3 separate regions of the Homo sapiens genome follow, and regions 1 and 3 are each linked to region 2. Evidence: fine-mapped expression QTL. A gene starts in region 2. Each other region holds a variant in brackets. All regions are shown on one strand. Distances are from middle to middle. Region 1 has its middle 6.9 kb from the start of TRE-TTC4-1. Region 2 holds the start of SDHB (succinate dehydrogenase complex iron sulfur subunit B). Region 3 holds the start of ARHGEF19 (Rho guanine nucleotide exchange factor 19).

Evidence for each region. PIP is the estimated chance that this variant, and not a neighbour inherited with it, causes the effect.
Region 1: its variant is fine-mapped to the expression of SDHB in whole blood (TOPMed, PIP above 0.99).
Region 3: its variant is fine-mapped to the expression of SDHB in whole blood (INTERVAL, PIP above 0.99).

What each region holds. Positions count from the first base shown.
Region 1 is chr1:16,525,240-16,531,685 of GRCh38, forward strand. No RefSeq gene overlaps it. Among named protein-coding and RNA genes, the nearest start is that of TRE-TTC4-1, 6.9 kb to the right of the region's middle. The variant G/A (reference allele first, on the strand shown) is at 3,105.
Region 2 is chr1:17,050,986-17,057,431 of GRCh38, forward strand. SDHB (succinate dehydrogenase complex iron sulfur subunit B) reads right to left here and starts at 3,047. Exons shown (of 8, transcript NM_003000.3): 1 at 2,963-3,047. The coding sequence starts at 3,034. RefSeq lists enhancers at 2,927-2,986, 3,537-3,586.
Region 3 is chr1:16,208,422-16,214,867 of GRCh38, forward strand. It overlaps ARHGEF19 (Rho guanine nucleotide exchange factor 19), which reads right to left and starts at 4,231. Exons shown (of 16, transcript NM_153213.5): 1 at 4,081-4,231; 2 at 222-662. The coding sequence starts at 633. RefSeq lists enhancers at 1-817, 4,035-4,733. The variant C/T (reference allele first, on the strand shown) is at 3,618.

The DNA.
Region 1 (6,446 bases), 530 kb before region 2:
GGCGGAGGTTGCAGTGAGCCAAGATTGTGCCACTGCACACTAGCCTGGGTGACAGAGCAAGACTCTATCTCAAAAAAAAAAAAAAAAGAAAGAAAGAAAAGATTTAAGAGAACAATTATTTTAATTGAATACATTTTGTCAAGATTAACTCAACTTTCCCCTAGAGTAGTGAAAGAATAAGCAATCGTAATTTAGATTCTAAGTTACTGGTCTTTGAGAAAGTGTGAAAACCAAAAAGGTGCCATAAGTCAAAAAGAGCAAAAGTCCTAATTTTCAAACTGATGAAAATAAAGTACTAAAAAATTGAAATCATCATAGTTCATCTTGGTCCTTGGCAAAATACAAATGTATTGATTCAAATTATAATATCTTAGCTACCCTATTGTGCGTAGCTCTTACCACTGAGGAGAAAAACCAAACCCAAACAAAAGTGTGTTCAAGTTGGCAACAATGTTTACAAACCTGCAAAATCTCTTCAGCCTATCCCTTAAACTCCAGACTTGGTATTTACTAAGCTCTGTGGTGTACAATACCCACCTTAATATCCATTCTTGCACAAGTTCTGTTAGGTATAAGCCAAGATGACATGAGATTTTTTTTTTTTTTTTTTTTTTTTTACCCTCTCATGCCTATGTTTGCTTTTGCTTCCACAGACCCTTCTGAGTAAGGACTATCCTCAGACTACTGGAGGCACTTAGTCACAAGCTTGCCTGAGGCTCAGAGCTGGCAATACCTGGGAGTTTATGTCAATCCCACAGCACCCAGCAACCCTGCCTGCAAAATATTTACCCATGATTGACAGGTGCAGGTGTATGAAAGCCCAGCTCCTTGACTTGAGGGGCACCTTTGTGGTGAATTAGGTTTGGCAAAAGGGAATCCAGAGGCCAACTTTGTAAAAATGCAGATAGATAAATAGAAAGAAATCTTTGCCTTGGAAGTCCAGTTGAGAAAGAGAGTGATTTACTTGAGACTCTGAAAACAGAGACTAAAATCTGTACTTTTTCATGGGAAAGAAGCCTATGGTGAAAGAGAAACAAAGAGAAAGGTAGGAAATAGGGTGGGTCTACTCCGTAGCTTTAAACCACTCTGTCATATTATAAAGCCCGGTGAGGTTTTAACTAACACAAGTGTCTGGACTCTACACATAGAGATTCTGATTTAAACGCTTCCAGGTGGGTGGAAGCCACTAGTAGTCTTAAAACACTCCCAAGTAATTTTACCATGTGGCTAGAGATGAAAAGGACAATCTATCTACTAGAATCTCAAGTAACCATTATTGAAGTGCCCCAAATGTGCAGCTACCTCATAGAAAAGGCTTAACACCACCCTTTGATGGAATTTCCCTTCCTCTCTCCATGGTCTTGTCTGCATAGCATGGAAAATAGAGAAGAGATAAAGAGGTAGATGGAGAGGTTGAACCTGTAATTTGCCTATGTAGAGCAGTTTCTCAAACTTTTCTGACCACAAGATGCAGTGAGAAATATACAATTCTTTGTGATCAGTTTTTTTTTTTTTTTTTTTTTTTTTTGAGATGGAGTCTTGCTCCGTTGCCCAGGCTGGAGTGCATTGGAATGATCTCGGCTCACTACAAGCCCCACCCTCCTGGGTTCACACCATTCTCCTGCCTTAGCGTCCTGAGTAGGTGGGACTACAGGCACCCACCACCATGCCCAGCTAATTTTTTTTTTTTTTTGTATTTTTATTAGAGACGGGGTTTCACCGTGTTAGCCAGGATGGTCTCAATCTCCTGACCTCGTGATCCACCCGCCTCGGCCTCCCAAAGTGCTGGGATTACAGGCGTGAGCCACTGCGCCTGGCCTGTGATCAGTTTTTAAAAAATCTTTTACTATGTGTAATCCACCCTACCTAGAATTTAAATAAAGCCTGCAGTAGTAAGCAGTCGACTATATTGATTTCACAACCCCTAAGTGGTTCAGAATTGCAATTAGAAAATTTTTCCTTTTGGCCAGGTGTGGTGGCTGGAGCCTGTAATCCCAGCACTTTGGGAGGATCACTTGAGGTCGGGAGTTTGAGACCAGCCTGACCAAGATGGAGGAACCCCGTCTCTACTAAAAAAAAAAAAAAAAAAAAATTAGCTGGGCGTGGTGGTGCATGCCTGTAATCACACCTACTTGGGAGGCTGAGGCAGGAGAATTGCTTGAACCCCAGGGGCTGGAGGTTGTGGTGAGCTGAGATTGCACCATTGCACTCCAGCCTGGGAAACAAGAGTGAAACTGTCTAAAAAAAAAAAAGAAAATAAATAAATTTTTACTTTTGCTCTGCCTTTTTATCAAGCAAAATCCCAAAAGAACATTTACTATAAACATCTTTCTGTGAATCCTTATTTCTGTCCCAGCCACCATGACCCAATAATCTCTAGAGCCTGTTAGTGTTCTCCAGATTGAAGCCTTCCCTCTAACTGCTCCTAAACTCTGTGATGTAGTGGAAAAGTTTTGAGGCCTCGATTCTCATCCCAGGTTTTTCACCTACAGATCATACGGCCTTAGCCTCTTGACACCATTGTCTCCTTATGGCCAAAGATGGAACTGTACTTGGGTGGTATCTGAGCACCCTGTTGGCTTTGACATTCTAGGGCTCTTCCCTTGGCACCACTCTCTTATTTAAAAGGAACAGGATGTGGACTTAGGAGGGTTATTTCTCTGCAAACTATCCTCTCTTTCTTATGACAAGCTATTTCTGAATGTGCACATTTGAGGCTAAGCAAATTCCTTCCTGGGAGGTTGAAAGACCCTTATTTCTCTCCAGAGGAGTATTATGGAGAGTCAATTGATGCTGAGGAGGTGGTAGAGACCTAGTGAACTCATCTGCAGTGGCTTTGAGCAAGGCTTTTAGAATCATAAGGTGGGTGGGGTCCTGTGTCCTACACCACAGGCCAGCTAGTTCATTTCAGGAGACTTTTTTTTCAATCTATTATTACTATCTTCTTCTAGACTGTAGTTCACTACTGGAGATTATCCACTTAGTTACACTCAGTTTGCACCTGGCCTGTATCACCAGTCAGCTCTCACTCCAGCCTCAGGTATCAGCAAGACCTCACCAAAGATTATTGTTTAATTTTGTGTGTGTGTGTTTTTGTTTGTTTC[G/A]GGTAACAACTAATGTTGGAACTATGAAAAGCTCTTCTCTACTTTTAACAAAGCTTAGTCACAAACAGTTCCCCAGTTGATGAGAAAAACTAAAACAACAGAACAATTGAAAGTCCAAATCTGCAAGCTCATCTCTGAGAACCGAATTCTACAGCCACTCCAGATTTGTACTCCAAATGGATAGTTTGATTGTAGAAATCACATCCCTTCAGTCTGCCAATGTGATAAGGGCCCAAGAGACAGTGATGCCTAGATTCATAGATAATCCCCTTTCCCCCATCCTATATATAACTGGAGTCAACAGCAGCTGGAGGAAAATGGCAAGAACTTGGAATCAAGATTAGGTTAGAATAACACTGCTGTAGACAGTTTATCAGCTCTTCAGCATACGTCCGTTTTCCTTGAAGGATGAGCCTGTAGAAACCTCTGACAATAAAGTTTATTTTACACCCATTCCCTTGCCTATGATTTTTTCATACAAATCACAATTATAAAACTTTCTTGCTCCAGCTAAAAGCAGGAAACTCAATCATGAATGTGTTCACTAAATATATACCACAGAATGATAACAACCAGTCTGATTGCATCACTTGATTCCAAAATTAAATGTTAGCCCTCAGGGGTGCAACTACATGTATCTCCAACTCTGGAAGCCACAGGCAACATATTCCTGTTTCCTTGCAGGGAAACAGATCTATAAGCAGGGCGGCAGTCTGACACATGTACATTCCTGGGAAACCCAAGGAAACAATGATAGTGACGCAGGGCAGGCAAGCCCCCAAACTGAAAGAGTTTTGCTAATGTCGCGATTGGCTTTCTATGTTATTTGAAGACTGAGATCTCCATGAGGAGTGAAGATAGGTAATGCCTAAGGCTGAGGCATGACCTCACTGGGTCACCTTAGCTGTAAAGTGAGGTCAGTTGTCACCTTGCAAACCTTTTGGTAATCCAAATCTTGGAATGATTTCTTTAAGAATTTAGACACTTCCAATACTTTTCCTGTCCTTGTGGGGAAAGCTTCTATCCACCTGGTGAAAGTGTCTATAAATACTAGCAAATCTTGTAGTCCCCTGTAAGGTGGCATCTGGTTTAAGTCTGTCTGCCAGTCTTCACCATGGTATGTTCCTTGGTGTTGTACAGGTTTAAGCAGGGATCGGGGTATGGGGTGGCTTCCTGAGTGGTAACCCTTTTTATAGTTTGGAACAGTCCCTTCCGCAAGAATATTTAGGAAACTAATTTAAATGGAAAATCCTGTCCCAAATGTGAGGAATCATGAAAATGTTTAATTATTTCCCATCTGTCAGCCTCAGGAATAGAGTTTGTTCTTTTCTAGCAACCATCCAGATGGGTCTCCCTGGAAGCCTTTTACTCAGTCCCTTTAATTTCCTTAGGGGTATATTATGGTGTCACTGACACGGATGGAGTACCTGGTAGTAGCGCAGCAGCCTGAAATACCAGGGTTTCCTTAGCTGTGGCCTTAGCTGCTCTTTCCACCAGGGAATTTCCTCTAATAATAAAAGTGTCTCCCTTCTGGTGTCCCCTGCGGTGAGTAATTGTTATTTCTTTGGGAGTTGGACAGCATCTAAAAGTTCCAAGATCTGAGTAAAGTTGTGTGGGGGATCCCTTGGCTCTTGATAGTCCCCTTTCCTTCCCTATGGCTGCATGAGCATGGAGCACCAGGAACCCATATTTAGAGTCAGTCAACACATTGACTCTTGAGGTTTTGTTCTTTTTTTTTCTTTTTTTGAAACGGAGTCTTGCTGTGTCGCCCAGGCTGGAGTGCAGTGGCATGATCTCAGCTCACTGCAATCTCAGCTCACTGCAAACTCAGGGATTCTCATGCCCCAGCCTCCCAAGTAGCTGGGATTACAGGCGACCCCCACCACACCCAGCTAATTTTTGTATTTTTAGTAGAGACGGGGTTTCGCCATGTTGGCTAGGCCGGTATAGAACTCCCAACCTCAGGTGATCCACCCACCTTGGCCTCCCAAAGTGCTGGGATTACAGGCGTGAGCCACCGTGTCCAGCTTAAGTCTTTTCATGGTTGGAAGGCCCTAATTAGAGCAGCTAATTCTGCTTTTTGAACAGAAGTCTGAGAAGGTAAACCCTTGGCCTCAAAAACTTCTTGTTGGCTAAGCTTCCTTTCTTACTCCCTCATGAATATAGCTATTTCCATCTCTAAACCACTCAACATTTGGGTTAGACAAGAGCTTGTCTTCAAGGTTGGGCCTTCTAGAGTAGAGCTCTTCCGTGGTTTCCACACAGGAGTCAATGAGTTTGGGATCTGTTTCTTGAGACGTGAGGTGCAGCAACAGAGTAGCAGGGTTTAAAAATCAGGACACTTTCAGGGTAACATCTGGGGTGTCAAGCAGAAGGGTCTGATATTTAAGTAACTGGCCCCCTGTTAGCCATTGGTGTACTTTTGCCTCTAGGACCCTCTGTACTGTACTTCATGGGGTGGCAGGGGGTGGGGGTGGGGGTGGGGTGGTATGGCATGTAATTGTTGTCCCAAGGTAAACTTACTGGTTTCGTCTAACGATAGAGTGATGGTAGTCACAGATCTCAAGCTTCTTGGTCACCTAGCTGCCACCTGGTCTAGCTGTTTAGAGAAATAAGCCACTGGTCCAAAGCAATTCCTCAGCCTTTGAGTTAGAACATTCGAAGCTGTCCCTTGTTATTCATCCACATAGAGGGTGAAAGGTTTTTCTAAGTTCGAGAGTCCTGAGGCAAGGGATGTCCCTGGCTTTTCTTTTAAGGCTAAGAATGCCTTTTGACAGGTTCCAAGCTCCGCCTCCTGGGTTCACACCATTCTTCCGCCTCAGCCTCCTGAGTAGCTGGGACTACAGGCGCCCGCCACCACAGCCAGCTAATTTTTTTGTATTTTTAGTAGAGACGGGGTTTCACCGTGTTAGCCAGGATGGTCTCTATCTCCTGACCTCCTGATCTACCCACCTCGGCCTCCCAAAGTGCTGGGATTACAGGCGTGAGCCACCGCACCCGGCCAACAAGTTTTTTTTTTTAAATGAACAGAGCATCAGTGAATGATAGTGCAAGTTTAAGACACCTAATAGACAAGTTAAAGGAGTCCTCCAGGCAGAAGGAAACTGACACCAGATGAAAATGTGGATGAAAAAAAAAAAGACACTAGAAATGACATCTACATAGGCAAATATATAATTTTAACATCTGACTGTTTAGCTGGGCACGATGGCTCACGCCTGGAATCCCGGCACTTTGGGAGGCCAAGGAAGGCGGATCACTTGAGGTCAGGAGTTCGAGACCAGCCTGGCCAATATGGTGAACCTTCCTCTCTACGAAAAATTCAAAAATTAGTCATATATG
Region 2 (6,446 bases):
GATAGGATCATATAGCAACACAGGTCACTTGATTCAAAAATCCAACCTTTTAGCCATTATAACCAGTGGTGAAAACGCAAACATAAAACGCAACAGTGCAAAAAGATAATTCCATTTCACAATGAGATCCAAGGAACAAAAGAAGTTGTTGCTCTAATCATACAATGAGACTATATGATTTTTTTCCCCTTGTTACCTGCCCAGCAATTTATACTACAAATCCAAAAGGAAAGAGGGCCCCTTGAAAGCATTTTTACGTTAATCTAAAGACTAATGAGTATTCAAGGCAGAAAGTACATTCCTAGGAAATCTTGGATAGTATGAATTTCATAGTTTATAATTTAAGCAAGGTAAGCAACAACTGAACTGAGAAGGGTGAATTCTGAATGGTGCTGAAGGCTGGTTGTTGTTCCTCCAGTAAAGTGTCCTTAGGGTGCAGGCTTGGAGTTGGATGGAGTGGATAAAGATTTGGAGGCCAGAGAAGAAGGTGGGGAAATAGAGAGGAAGAAAGCAAAAAGGACTGTATGAAGATAAGCCTGAGTAAAATACAAGGTGCAGGCTTGCTGAAAAGTGTGATTGGTGATGCTTGAAATCCAAGCTCTATCACTTACAAGCTGTGTATTCTTCTGCAAATTATTAGCTTTTCGGATTCTATTTCTTCCTTTGTAAAGGGTGGGTAGTATTAATATCTGCCTCATAAGATAACCCGGGGGAGGGGGGGTCAAGTTTCTAGCATAGCCCAGAAAAAAATTTTTGCTCTACAAGATTGGCAACCTTATCAGTCTTTGTATTATTCTGATTTGTAAATAGGTATCCTAGCCCTGCCAGCCTAAGGAACAAGATGCACATTTTTTAAATTTTTTTTTTTTTTTTGAGACTGAGTTTCGCTCTTGTCGCCCAGGATGGAGTGCAATGGTGCGATTTCAGCTCACTGCACCCTCCACCTCCCAGGTTCAAGCAATTCTCCTGCCTCAGCCTCCTGTGTAGCTAGGATTATAGGCGCCCACCACCACGCCCAGCTAATTTTTTTTTTATTTTTTTAGTAGAGACGGGGTTTCACCATGTTGGCCGGGCTGGTCTTGAACTCCTGACCTCAGGTGATCCACCCACCTTGGCCTCCCAAAGTGCTGGAATTACAGGCATGAGCCACTGCACCTGGCAAGATACACACTTTTAAGTAGGTAGTTCTTGTCCTAAAGGAGTTCATAGTCCAGATGAAGAAATAAGGCAACACAAACAATAGTTAATATACTACAGTCAAATACTTACAGGCAGAATTGTGGTTCAGTGGTCAGACTATAAGCATAAAAAGAATTCAGAACCTGAACCTGAATGTTACCCACAGGTAACACACCAAGCTCATTACTGAATTCTTTTGAGGTGGCTTTTGTGGGTATACATGTACATTCCCACAAGGAAGGGGAGGCCTTGGGGCTCTTCTATTTTCTGTTGCCCTCAGGAGGCCCTGCAAAGACCTTGCCTGGAATTACAAAAATGACCTATGAAATTAGCCTTTTCTACAATGCATTCTTAGAAGAGGGGCTTGGAACTCTCTCGTTAGTGGGGCTCTCACAATTTAATTGTTTGCTCAGCAACTATAAAAGGAACAGGTAAACAAGCTCATTATCAATCATCAATTTAATACTGAGAGGATGTCAGCTTGAGGCTCTGGTAGGCTGTCTTCTTCCTCTATCTCCCCTTTTCAGAAAGGCTGATGCAGACAGAGTGGATCCAAGTTCACACACAGCATGCTGGATAGAACCAGGATTGGAACATGGGCAATATGTACTGTGTTATGCAGCCATAGCAGGCACTTAAGATGAAAGATGTCCTCATTTAAGTGCAAGAGAGGAAGAGGAACTAAAATTTCTTGGACACCAACCATGTCCCAAGATCTATGCTAAGGAGTTTTTCTGGTACCATGTTAAAAAACTGCCTCAGGTCTGCTTCTTGGGAATGTGATATTTTGAGCAAGCCAAAAATTTTCTTTCTGGGGGCCTCAAGTTTTCAAAGCTCCAAAAAGGAGGGTAAGGATTCTTGCTTGCCCACCTTAAAGGGGTTGTTGAGAATCCCAGAAGAGGAACAGACTTAGAAAGGATTTGCAAATCCTTAGTCCCTTATGTATACAAAAGCAATTTCCCTTCCCCTTCTAAATGTTCCCACTTAGAAGGCAGGTCAGAAATGTGTTGTTTCTTGGCCATACAAGGGGCGTGGGAAAATCTGTTACTGCACACGGCATAGTAATAAACAAGAACAGCGCCAAGCCCTCTACCTGTCATTCCATGTCAACTCTATGAGGTCCGTATTATTATATGACCTTTAGAGTCAGAAACACTGAGAGGATACTAGTGAAACTGTGGTGACACTGCTTTAAGGAACCCAGTCTTTCCTGCAACCCCCACCACCCACCTCCGGGATCCTTCGAGGTAGGGGGCTGGGTGCATTTCCCTCCATCTCTCCCTTCCCCTGCCCTGTCCCCAACAATTCACATGTCCTTTCCTCACCCATCCCGGTCCTCAACCTCGCACCCTTGAGGAATTACCTCGCTTCCCAATTCCCATCCTTCACACCCCGCAGGTCTCCCTTTTCTACAGAGGCGATAGTTTGGTGGCAGAAAAAGGGCTTGGAACTCCAATGTCTGGATTCAAATTCTGGTTCCAGCAGTCATTCGCTTGCCATGTGACCTTGAGCAATTCAAGTCCCCTTTCTGAACGTCCCCCCCCCCCGCACCCTTAGCTGTAAAAAATTGCCCGTGCCCTAACTCACAAGCTGCTGCGAGGCGCAGAAAGATAACTTGACAGGGATGCTCGAAGCCAAACCAAAGCACTGCACCAGGGGGAGGAGGTCCTCCATCTCCCTGAGGCCTTGCCCTATGCTTCCTCAGTCTCTCCGCAGCCCCATCAGCTCCAGGCAGTCTCTGTGGCTTTCCTGACTTTTCCCTCTCTGAGGCTCCAGGACTCACCTGCAGGCAGGCTCCGCCAAGGGTTGTGGCCGGCAACCGGCGCCTCAAGGAGAGGGCGACCACCGCCGCCATCTTGGCTCCTGACGTCAGCCCCACCCCTTAACCCCGAGGTCGCTCTCCGCCGGTGTCCCGTCGAACATCGCGGCGCCCAGCCTACATCCACTGAGGACCCACTAGCCGCGTACGAGCAACCAAGTGGGAGGCGGCTTCCGGTTTCCCGGGTGGGCGGAGGGAAGGCGGGGCAAGCACAGCGAGCGTGCGCAATAGCGCAGTAGCGGCGCATGCCCATTTGGCTTCCCCCGTGACCTTCTCAGAAAGGGGAGGAGTCTGAGAGGCAGGGCGACTTTCAGGGGGTGGGGCTAAGACTTAGATGGGGCGGAGCCATCCTATCCGGGTCCCTGCCCCGATTTCAACCTCTTTATTCCTGGAATTTTTGTTTGTTTGTTTGAGATGGAGTCTCGCACTGTTTCCCGGGCTGGAGTGCAATGGCGCGATCTTGGCTCACTGCAACCTCCGCCTCCCGGGTTCACGCGATTCTCCTGCCTCAGCCTCCCGAGTAGCTGGGATTACAGGCGCACACCATCACACCCGGCTAATTTTTTGTATTTTTAGTAGAGACGGGGTTTCATCATCTTGGCCAGACTGGTCTTGAACTCCTGACCTCGTGATCCGCCCACCTTGGCCTCCCAAAGTGCTGGAATTACAGGCATGAGCCACTGCGCCCGGCCAATTTTTTTTTTTTTTTTCAGACAGGGTCTCACTCTGTTGCCCAGGCCGGTGTGCAGTCTTGGCTCACTGCAGCCTCGACTTCCCAGGCTCAAGCGATCCTCCCACCTCCAGAGTAGCTGGGACTACAGGCGTGTGAGCCACCATACCCGGGTAGTTTTTTTTTTTTTCTTTTTTTTGAGATGGAGTATCGCTCTGTCTCCCAGGCTGGAGTGCAGTGGCGCGATCTCGGCTGACTGCAACCTCCGCCTCCCGGGTTCAAGCAATTCCCTGCCTCAGCCTCCCGAGTAGCTGGGATTATAGGCGTCCGCCATCATGCCCGGCTAATTTTTTTGTGTTTTTAGTAGAGATGGGGTTTCACCATCTTGGCCAGGCTGGTCTTGAACTCCTGACCTCGTGAGCCACCCACCTCGGCCTCCCAAAGTACTGGAATTACAGGCATGAGCCACCGCGCCCGGCCACCCGGATAATTTTTTTAAAAAATTATTTGTAGAGATGGAGTCTGGCTATGTTGCCCAGGCTGGGCTCAAGCAATCATCCTGCTCCAACTTCCCAAAGTGCTGGGATTACAGGCGTGAGCCACCACACCTAGCCTCCCTAAGAATTTGTCAGTCTTATTATTCATCTCTGACGCTTACTGGCTTGAGTCAGCCCTTTCTGTCGCATACCGTGCAGCTTGCCCGAGGCTGCCCAGGTTTCTGCACTGAGAGTCCCAAACAAACTGGGCAGTTGGTGAATGAGCTGAGGTGATTTCAAGGGTGGCTGGCAAAGGTGCCATTCTTTTGTTCGTTCATTCATTCATTCATAAATACGAATGGAGTGGCTACTATGTGGCAGGCACCAAGTGCTGGGATGCTGCAGGGAATGAGCAAGCCAGGTGGTCACTGCTCATTGAATTTACTCTCTAGTGGTGGAGACGGCAAGTGAGCAGACAGCTAGACACTGTGAGCTCTGTTCTGTACGAGAGGGTGTGCCCAGAGAAGGACACCCAGTCCTTGGTGGCTTTGTTAGCCATTTAATATAAGAAACCATTTCTACTCTGTGCCAAACATTATGGTCCATTATCCCACTTAATCCCCACAGCAGTTCTGTGAAGAAAGTTTTTTGGTTTTGTTTTTTACTGAGTTTCCATTTTAGACATCTCAGCTTCTTTTTCCAGCCCCCTCCATGGATCTGCTCAGAGCTGGCCTCACTCTTGGGACTTACCTTGGGCAGGAGTGGCCTGGAGCCTCCAAGGCACCTGCCTCTTCAGTCACTCCACGCGTTTGTGTAGATTGTTAACCTTGCAGGTCCCGGGGTTTCGTAGGAGTGATTTTTTTTTCCCCTTTCTGTCTGCTTGTTTTGGACATGTGAAGGGCGCCTTTCTATAGTCTTTGGTTTCCACTCTCACAGCTGATGTGGATGCTACTGGAGACATTGAGATGGCCAGGTCAATTGGCTGGATGGGCTGTTTCTGGAGTCCTTGACTGGAACCCCGCTATACCGCCAGTGTGGCCTCATTAAAGGGGGTGTGTAGTGAGGCCTGAACCTCTAGGTCTAACCTGGAATATTCTCTTCAAGGCCATGTGACCTTGGATAAGCCCCTCCCCATCTTTGACCTATAGTTTCCTTGCCTGAACCATTAGGGTGTTGGGCCCTCTGATTTAAGATTCTGTGATTCACGTGGCTGTCTTGTGGATAACTGGTAACAATGCTGAGGTCACCTTGACTTTCACTGGTGCTGACCCAGGACTGGAACAGGGCCCCTCTGGTCTGCCCCATGGGGCCTCTTGGGTCACCCAAACTGGCTGAGATATGGGAAGACTGCCGCTCTGTCTCTAACTCCTAACTGAATTGTCGTCTGAGCTGAAGAAAGCTCTTCCTGAAAGGAATGTATTTCTAGAGAATTGGTCCTCTTAGCATTTTCAGGGTTCTTTCATCTCAAAGGCAGATGCCACCCCTAGATAAGCAACTACCCTTTCAGTTTGCCCAGGTCACCTTGGAAAAAGCAGTCTGAGGCCAGCATAAGTGAGACCTTGATTTATGGAGGGGCTGTTGGTGCCAATGGGCCCACATGCCCTGCAGTCACATCATTCCTGGGCTTCGTGGGGATTTGGGGAGCTCAAAGTTATGGAGGAATAAATTCCTGGGCGGCTGTACCTCCGCCCTGGACTTTGGGATGCCAGAAAGTCACAGCTGCAGAAGGACTTAGAAATTTTCATGGCCTGATCCTGACATATTTTCCAAAGATGTCCTCATGATAAGACCCTAGGTTTTTTTGGTTTATTTCCATTCGTCTAGAGAGTGACATATTGCTTTTCACCAGACAGTCTGCTAGACACTATGTTTATACTGAACTTTATCACTTGCAAAGGTGTTTACATAAACAGTCTCATTTAGTCCTCATAACCACACTTTTGGGTTGGAAAAGCTGCTCCTGTTTTCCAGACTCTCTCAGTCTTTGGACAGCAGGAAAACTGAGCAGCCTTAGGTGAGCGTTTTGCTTTAGGAGGTCTTTCTCCCCTAAGAGCTGGAAATCATGTCCAGAATTGAAAATTAAAACCAGCTGGGCAAAGTGGCTCATACCTGTAATCCCAGAACTTTGGGAGGCTGAAGTGGGAGGATCGATCCCTTGAGCCCAGGAGTTCGAGACCAGCCTGGGCAACATGGTGAGACCCTGTCTCTACAAAAAAATTTAAAATCCGCCAAGCATGGTGGTGCAAACCTGTAGTACCAGCTACTTGGGAGGCTGAAGTGGGAGGATTGCTTGAGTGCAGGA
Region 3 (6,446 bases), 840 kb before region 2:
GTAGACAGAGGGATCAGGCTGCCCAGAATGGTGACTCACTCACTGCATAACCTTGGACAAGTCACTTGCCTTCCCTGAGCCCCACTAGTTTCCTTATCACTAATCTACCACTTGTCCTGACTTTTGGGGGAACCTTGGGACATAAAGGTTAAGGAGCTGCCCAGCCCCTCCCCTATCCCCCTGCCATGGCACCCACACCCGCCTTCCCCAGGGTGACTCACAGGCAGACTTCTTCTCCGAGCCGTGGCTGGCCCGGCGCTGTGGCTGTGTGTGTCGGGGACTCCAGGGTCCCTCCAGAGCTGGGGGCTGGGCACCAGGACAGTGTGGCCAGCTGCCAGCCCTGCTGGGCCGCATCCCCCCGCTGGTGATCTCTGTATCTGAGCCTCCTGGGGATAATGGCCATAGCAACCCTTGGAGAGGGGCAGGGGTCCCCAGGGACCAGCGGCTGCCAGGAGCCCGAAGCTCCTCTGGGGCAACAGGGAAAAGGTCCAGACACACTGGGCTCGGGGGCTTCAGGGCGGGCAGCTCTGCAAAGGACAGACTCTCCTGCTGGCACACTGCTACAGGGTGGTGGGCAGTGCCAGGTGGCCCAGTCAGGTGGGGCTGGAGGGTAGCAGGTGGCCCACAGTCCATTCCTCTTTTGCTCTGCCACCCACCTGGCCCTGCAGAAGAGAAGATATCAGACCTAGACAGAGGACAGTGGGGCTGGCCAGTAAGCCACCACCCCTGGAGGCCTGGACAAACCCCTGTGTACACTTGTGTACACACATCTCCACAAACACACTCACATGTCTAATTATATAGAAATAGCTGATACTTGCTTGGCATTGCCTGAATGATAGGCCAAGTACTTTACACATACTATCTCATTTAATCCTCACAACAACGCTGTGAGTTGATGCTCTTATTATCCCCATTTTATAGGTGAGGAAACTGAGGCACAGAGAGGTTATTTGGTAAATGGTGGAGCCAGGATTCTAACCTGGCCGTTCTAGCTTTGAAATCGATGATTTTAACCACCTTGTACTTCTCTAAAACACACTGACATGTCACCAGACATGCAAATACATACATTGTCACACAAATCCATTTCCCAACATATACATCCACACTACATTTTCTCCCAAGTATAGAATGACATGTACACTTTCATAGATACAGACATTTCAAACTCAGGCTCACACAGTCACAGACACACACATTTTTACACAACCGCATACATTCACAGACAACTCCTCACAAACACGCTGACCCGTCCGATATTTACACAGGCACCCAAGATTTCTCACCCTCCTGTTCCCTTCACATGCACACAGACACACACCAGCCCACAGGTCCTTGCTCTGATGTTTCTCCCCCCATCTCCCCGACCCTTGCCCAGAGTTGCGGCCTTCAGTGCTGAGTGGTGCCCACACCCATGCCAAGTTGGCTGGGAGGGTCATGGACTGGCAGGCGGGCCACCACCCAGATCAGGCAGGGGCCTTCTCGAAGTTCAAAGAGGTGCCCCAGCACCCCCGGCTTGGAGTGAAAGAGGGGCTGTCCCCCACCCCAGCTTCCAGCCCCTGGGTGGGCCAGGCTGGATGGGTCCTTTCTGGGCAGGAAGTTATCCCTGGGGAGCCAGCCCTCCGATCGGGGCAGGCCTGATGATCTGAGAGGCCCAAGCCCCCACAGCTCTTGCCCTGTGGCCCTCTGCCAGCCTCCCTCCTGCAGCCCCTCACCTCTCTGGGCCCAGGCCCGCTGCTGATGCTGTTTGGCTGTTCCGGCAGGGGAAGCCCTCTCTCTGCCCAGCTGGCTGGGGGAGATCCCACCCAGACAAAGAGTTTGATTCATCAAACCCTGTGGTGAGGCAAGCAGGGAGGGAGGGAGGGAGCAGGCAGCGGGCTGGGCGGGGGCCTACCCTAGCCTGGCCTCGCTGTGGGCAGGCCGGGCAGCCAGGACCCCCCAGAGGCCCCCTCAGGCCAAAGGGGCAGTGCCCAGCCTGGCAGGACCAGGAGAGCCAGGAAATGAAGACTGAGAGAGACCCAGAGAAACAGAGACCACTTAGCCAGTAACTGAGAAACCAAGACCCCAAGACGTTCAAAAACAGAAAAACCACAGATGCTGAGACATTCAGGGACCCAGAGATGGAGACAGAGACACTGACAATTTCAGGCCAACCAGATCCTCAGAGACACAGATGAAGCCCAGAAAACCCAGGGAGACAGATGGACAAACATTTCATGCCCGTGGGCTGCCAGTCTAGTGGGAGAGCCAAAAATGAAAACAGTTACAATCCAGGTTGGCAAGAGCCAAGCCAGAGGAACCATCAGAGGAGGGTGCTCGGCTCAACTCAACCTGGGTATTCCAGGAAGACTTCCTGGAGGAGGTGATAGTTAACTGCTCCACGGCTGAAATACATAGTGCACTTAGAGGGAAAGCCTTGGCCTGAACAGTGACAGTGTCAGTCACTATTGGAGACAGGGAGGGAGAAGAGGACCCAGCGAGAGATGGCTGGGTCTATGGCAGGCCCCAGTCTCTCTGCACAGCTTCTCAACTGCTTCCCCCTGCTCCCTTCACCCTGCTGTCTGGGAGGGTGGGAAGAAGGGGACTGGCTGCTCCAAAGGGGTCCTCTCTACGGTGGCCACTCTGGCTTGTACCATCAGCCTCTGTCCCTCTAGCCTGAAAAGTACCCATCTGAGCGAGTCTCCCTAAGCCTCGGTCTCCTCATCCGGCAAATAGGATAGTATTTTTATTATCATCAGTCTTTCTCTAGACAGAAGGCAGCTCAGGCCTTCACACAGATGGGGAAGATGAAGGAGTGAGGCTGAGACACACATTATATCGCAGGAGTGTGCACAAGGAGGCCCCTGCCCACAGACGGGTCTCTTTCTCTGCAGGAATCAGAAGTCCTCGACACAGAAGTCCCACTTGCTTCTGGGGGCACACATGTGCAGGCATGTACACATGCCCCCTGCCCCTTTGTATGCTGGGAGATTCTAGCACTTGGGTTCTGGAAGCTCCTGGAGGGCAGGGAGGGACCCTCTCTCCCATGGCTCACAGGGATAAGTAGGCAAAACATTGAGGCTTTGCAGCAGGAGCACCCCCAGTTAAGGCTGCAGAGGAGAAGGCTAGGTGAATGTGGGGAGAGGGGACATAGAAGGCTTCCCGGGGAGATGAAGCTGGAGGCAGGTCCCTAGCAGGGAAGAAGTCAGGAGTGTGTCAGCCTCCACCTATGCTCAAGCCAAGGGGTAATAAGAATGACCCATCTAGCTGGGATGCCAGCCCTGTGGCCCTCCAGGGGTTTGGCCCACCCAACCTCAATGCTGGGGAGCTAAGAGGGACAAGCTGTGTTCATATTGTGTGTAGCTCATCTCTGTTAGAAAAAAACAAACAAAAACCTCAGAAAGAGAACTGGCCCCAGACAGCAGGGACATTACCTTCCCAAGGCACGATCACAGGATAGAGACTCTTGTGTCTACTAGGCAAGGGCCACTCTGGAGCCCAAAAAGAATAACCTCCGCCCAAGCTTTGAGGCCCAGTGTTGACACTGACCAGCTGTGTGGCCTTAGGCAATTCACAGCCCATCCCTTGGCCTCAGTATTCCCATCTGTAAAGTGGCTCCTAAGGGACCGCACCAC[C/T]GCCCAATGCCCTCTCTAAGAAACATGTCTCATCATAAATGTCTCTGGGCCAAGAAGGATGGGCAGGGGCCGAGGAAAGTACCCTTGGTGGGTGCTGCTAATTACAGAAGACGATGGGCCCACTTAGCAAGGCTGCCAGAGAGTCCCTGGACACTACCATGATCAGAAAAAGTGTTTCTGGCCTCCTGTACCTAGCTTTTCCCTGCCCCCTCCCGGGTGCCCCTTGCCTTGCTGCCCAGGAGAGCTGGTACCCTGCCAGAGCCTCTCTGCCCTTTAAGGAATAAAGCCAGGTGGGAAGTCATGGCTGGAAAGTGGATCCAGGCCAAGTGGTTCACAGAGCCCCAGAAGGCCATAGTGGGTCAGAGCCAGGATCAGAGACCAGGCGGGCAGCACAAAGGGCTCACTCAGCGGGGAAAACTGGCGGGAAGAGAATGGGACTGCTGGCACCCAGGTGGGGCCCTACCTCAGCCAGGGAGCTCCGTCCAGCTGCCAGCACGGTCCAGGGCTCCGGGACACCCTGGGGGCTCTGGGGTTGCAGCCAAGTCCTCAGGGGGCGATGTCAGCATGTCAGCATGGCCCCAGAGCCGAGCAAGGCAAGCTCCTGGGTATTGTGTGGGGCAGGGAGGGGGAGGTGAAGGAGGAGGGAACCTTGCAGAGAGAGGCAGGCGGCTGTCTCAACGTGCCTGCTCCCCGCCCCCCTTCCCCAGAACCGGTTTGGCTAGTCTGGGGTACAAGAGGGGGGCTGGAACAATGGGAGTCCTATGCCCAAGTGAGGCTCTGAAGGACCCTACACCCAGGTCCTAAAGACGGGGGAGGCAGTGCTTCTGCTCCTAGGAGACAGGTCACCACTCTTCTGGAGCTTCCCAAACATGAGCATGCTCAGGGGACTTCTTGGAGCTGGGGAGCATCCTGGGAGCTTCACAGAGAGCCTCCCAAGCCCTGCACTCCTTAGGGACCCTGAGAACCCTGATGACCCTCTCTGATCCTATTACTACATCTATCAAATTGGAACACTCATCCCTATGATTGGGAGACAGAAATCAGTCCTGAAAGTTGATGATGTGACATGTGGCATCATCCTGGACAGCCTCTCCTCATCTAGTACAGCCACTGCTTGCAAATCCCCATCCTTTCCCACGGCCTGGAATGACCTGCCCCACCATCTCCAGTGGCCGCCTCCACCATGAAGCCTTCCCAGACTATACCAATTGAGCCCTCAATAAACCAAGCCAAATAGCCAAGTCAAACTGCCTCCAATAAGAAGGGCATGCTCTATGCCCGGCATGCAATCTTCCCAACCCTGTGGAATGGGAAGCTGCATTTTCCCCTAATTCTACCTGCCATCTGTTTGAGCTACCAGCAATTGCCAGGCACCTAATATTAATATGCAGATGTGTACACAGACTAATAGTCATGAAGCTAACTTATTGTTCACCTACTAGGTGCCAGGCACTGTCCTGAGCACTTCACATGTATTTACTCATTTAATCTCCACCATGACCCTGTCAGGTAGATACTGCTACCACTTATCAGGTGAGTACAGTTGTCCCTTGGTACCCAGAATCTGTGGGGAATTGGTTCTAGAACCCTCCCATACGAAAATCCATGGCTGCTCCAGTCCCTTATACAAAATGTCATAGTGTTTGCTATAACCTTTGTACATCCTCCAGTAAATTTTATTTTATTTTATTTTATTTATTTATTTATTTATTTATTTATTTATTTATTTATTTATTTTTAAGATGGAGTCTTGCTCTGTCACCCAGGCTGGAGCAAGTGGTGGGATCTCAGCTCACCGCAACCTTTGCCTCCCAGGTTCAAGCAATTCTTCTGCCTCAGCCTCCCCAGTAGCTGGGATTACAGGCGCATGCCACCACACCCTACTAATTTTTTTTGTTTCTAGTCAAGACAGGGTTTCACCATGTTGGCCAGGCTGGTTTTTGAACTCCTGACCTTAAGTGATCCACCCGCCTCAACCTCCCGAAGTGCTGGGATTATAGACGTGAGCCACCGCACCCAGTCTATTTTATGTATTTATTGTCAAAAAATAAAATAAAATGTCCTCAAGTGAGAGGGTCTCACTCTGTCATCCAGGCTGGAGTACAGTGGTGCAATTACAGGGCTCACTTGCAGTCTCGTCGACCTCCTGGGCTCAGGTGATTCTCCCACCTAAGCCTCCTGAGTAACTGGGACCACTGGTGTGCACCCCCACACCTGACTAATTTTTGTATTTTTTGTAGAGATGGGATCTCACCAGGTTGCCCAGCCTAGTCTCAAACTCCTGGGCTCAGGCGATCCACCAGCCTTGGCCTCCCAAAGTACTGGATTTATAGACATGAGCCACCACGCCCGGCACTCCAGTACAGTTTAAATCAATTCTAGATTACTTATAACACGTTAATACAGTGTAAGTGCTATGTAAATAGTTGTTATCCTGTAATGTTTTTTATTTGCATTATTTTTTATTGTCATTATTTTTGTTATTTTTTGTTTTTATTTTCATTTTCCATGCATTGTTGGTTGAACCCAAGGATGCAGAACCTGAGGATATGGGGGGCCAACTTAACAAGTTAAGTCATGAGCATTATCCCTTTGAAATCTCTCATCAGTTCTATGAAGTCCCTATTTTACAGATGACATTAAGGTTTGAGAGATTAAATAACTTGTCACACAGCTAATAAGGGGCAGGACTAGTATTGAAACCCAGGTCTGGCCGGGCGTGGTGGCTCACGCCTGTAATCCCAGCACTTTGGGAGGCCAAAGTAGGTGGATCCCCTGAGGTCAGGAGTTCTAGACCAGCCTGGCTAACATGGTGAAACCTGTCTCTAC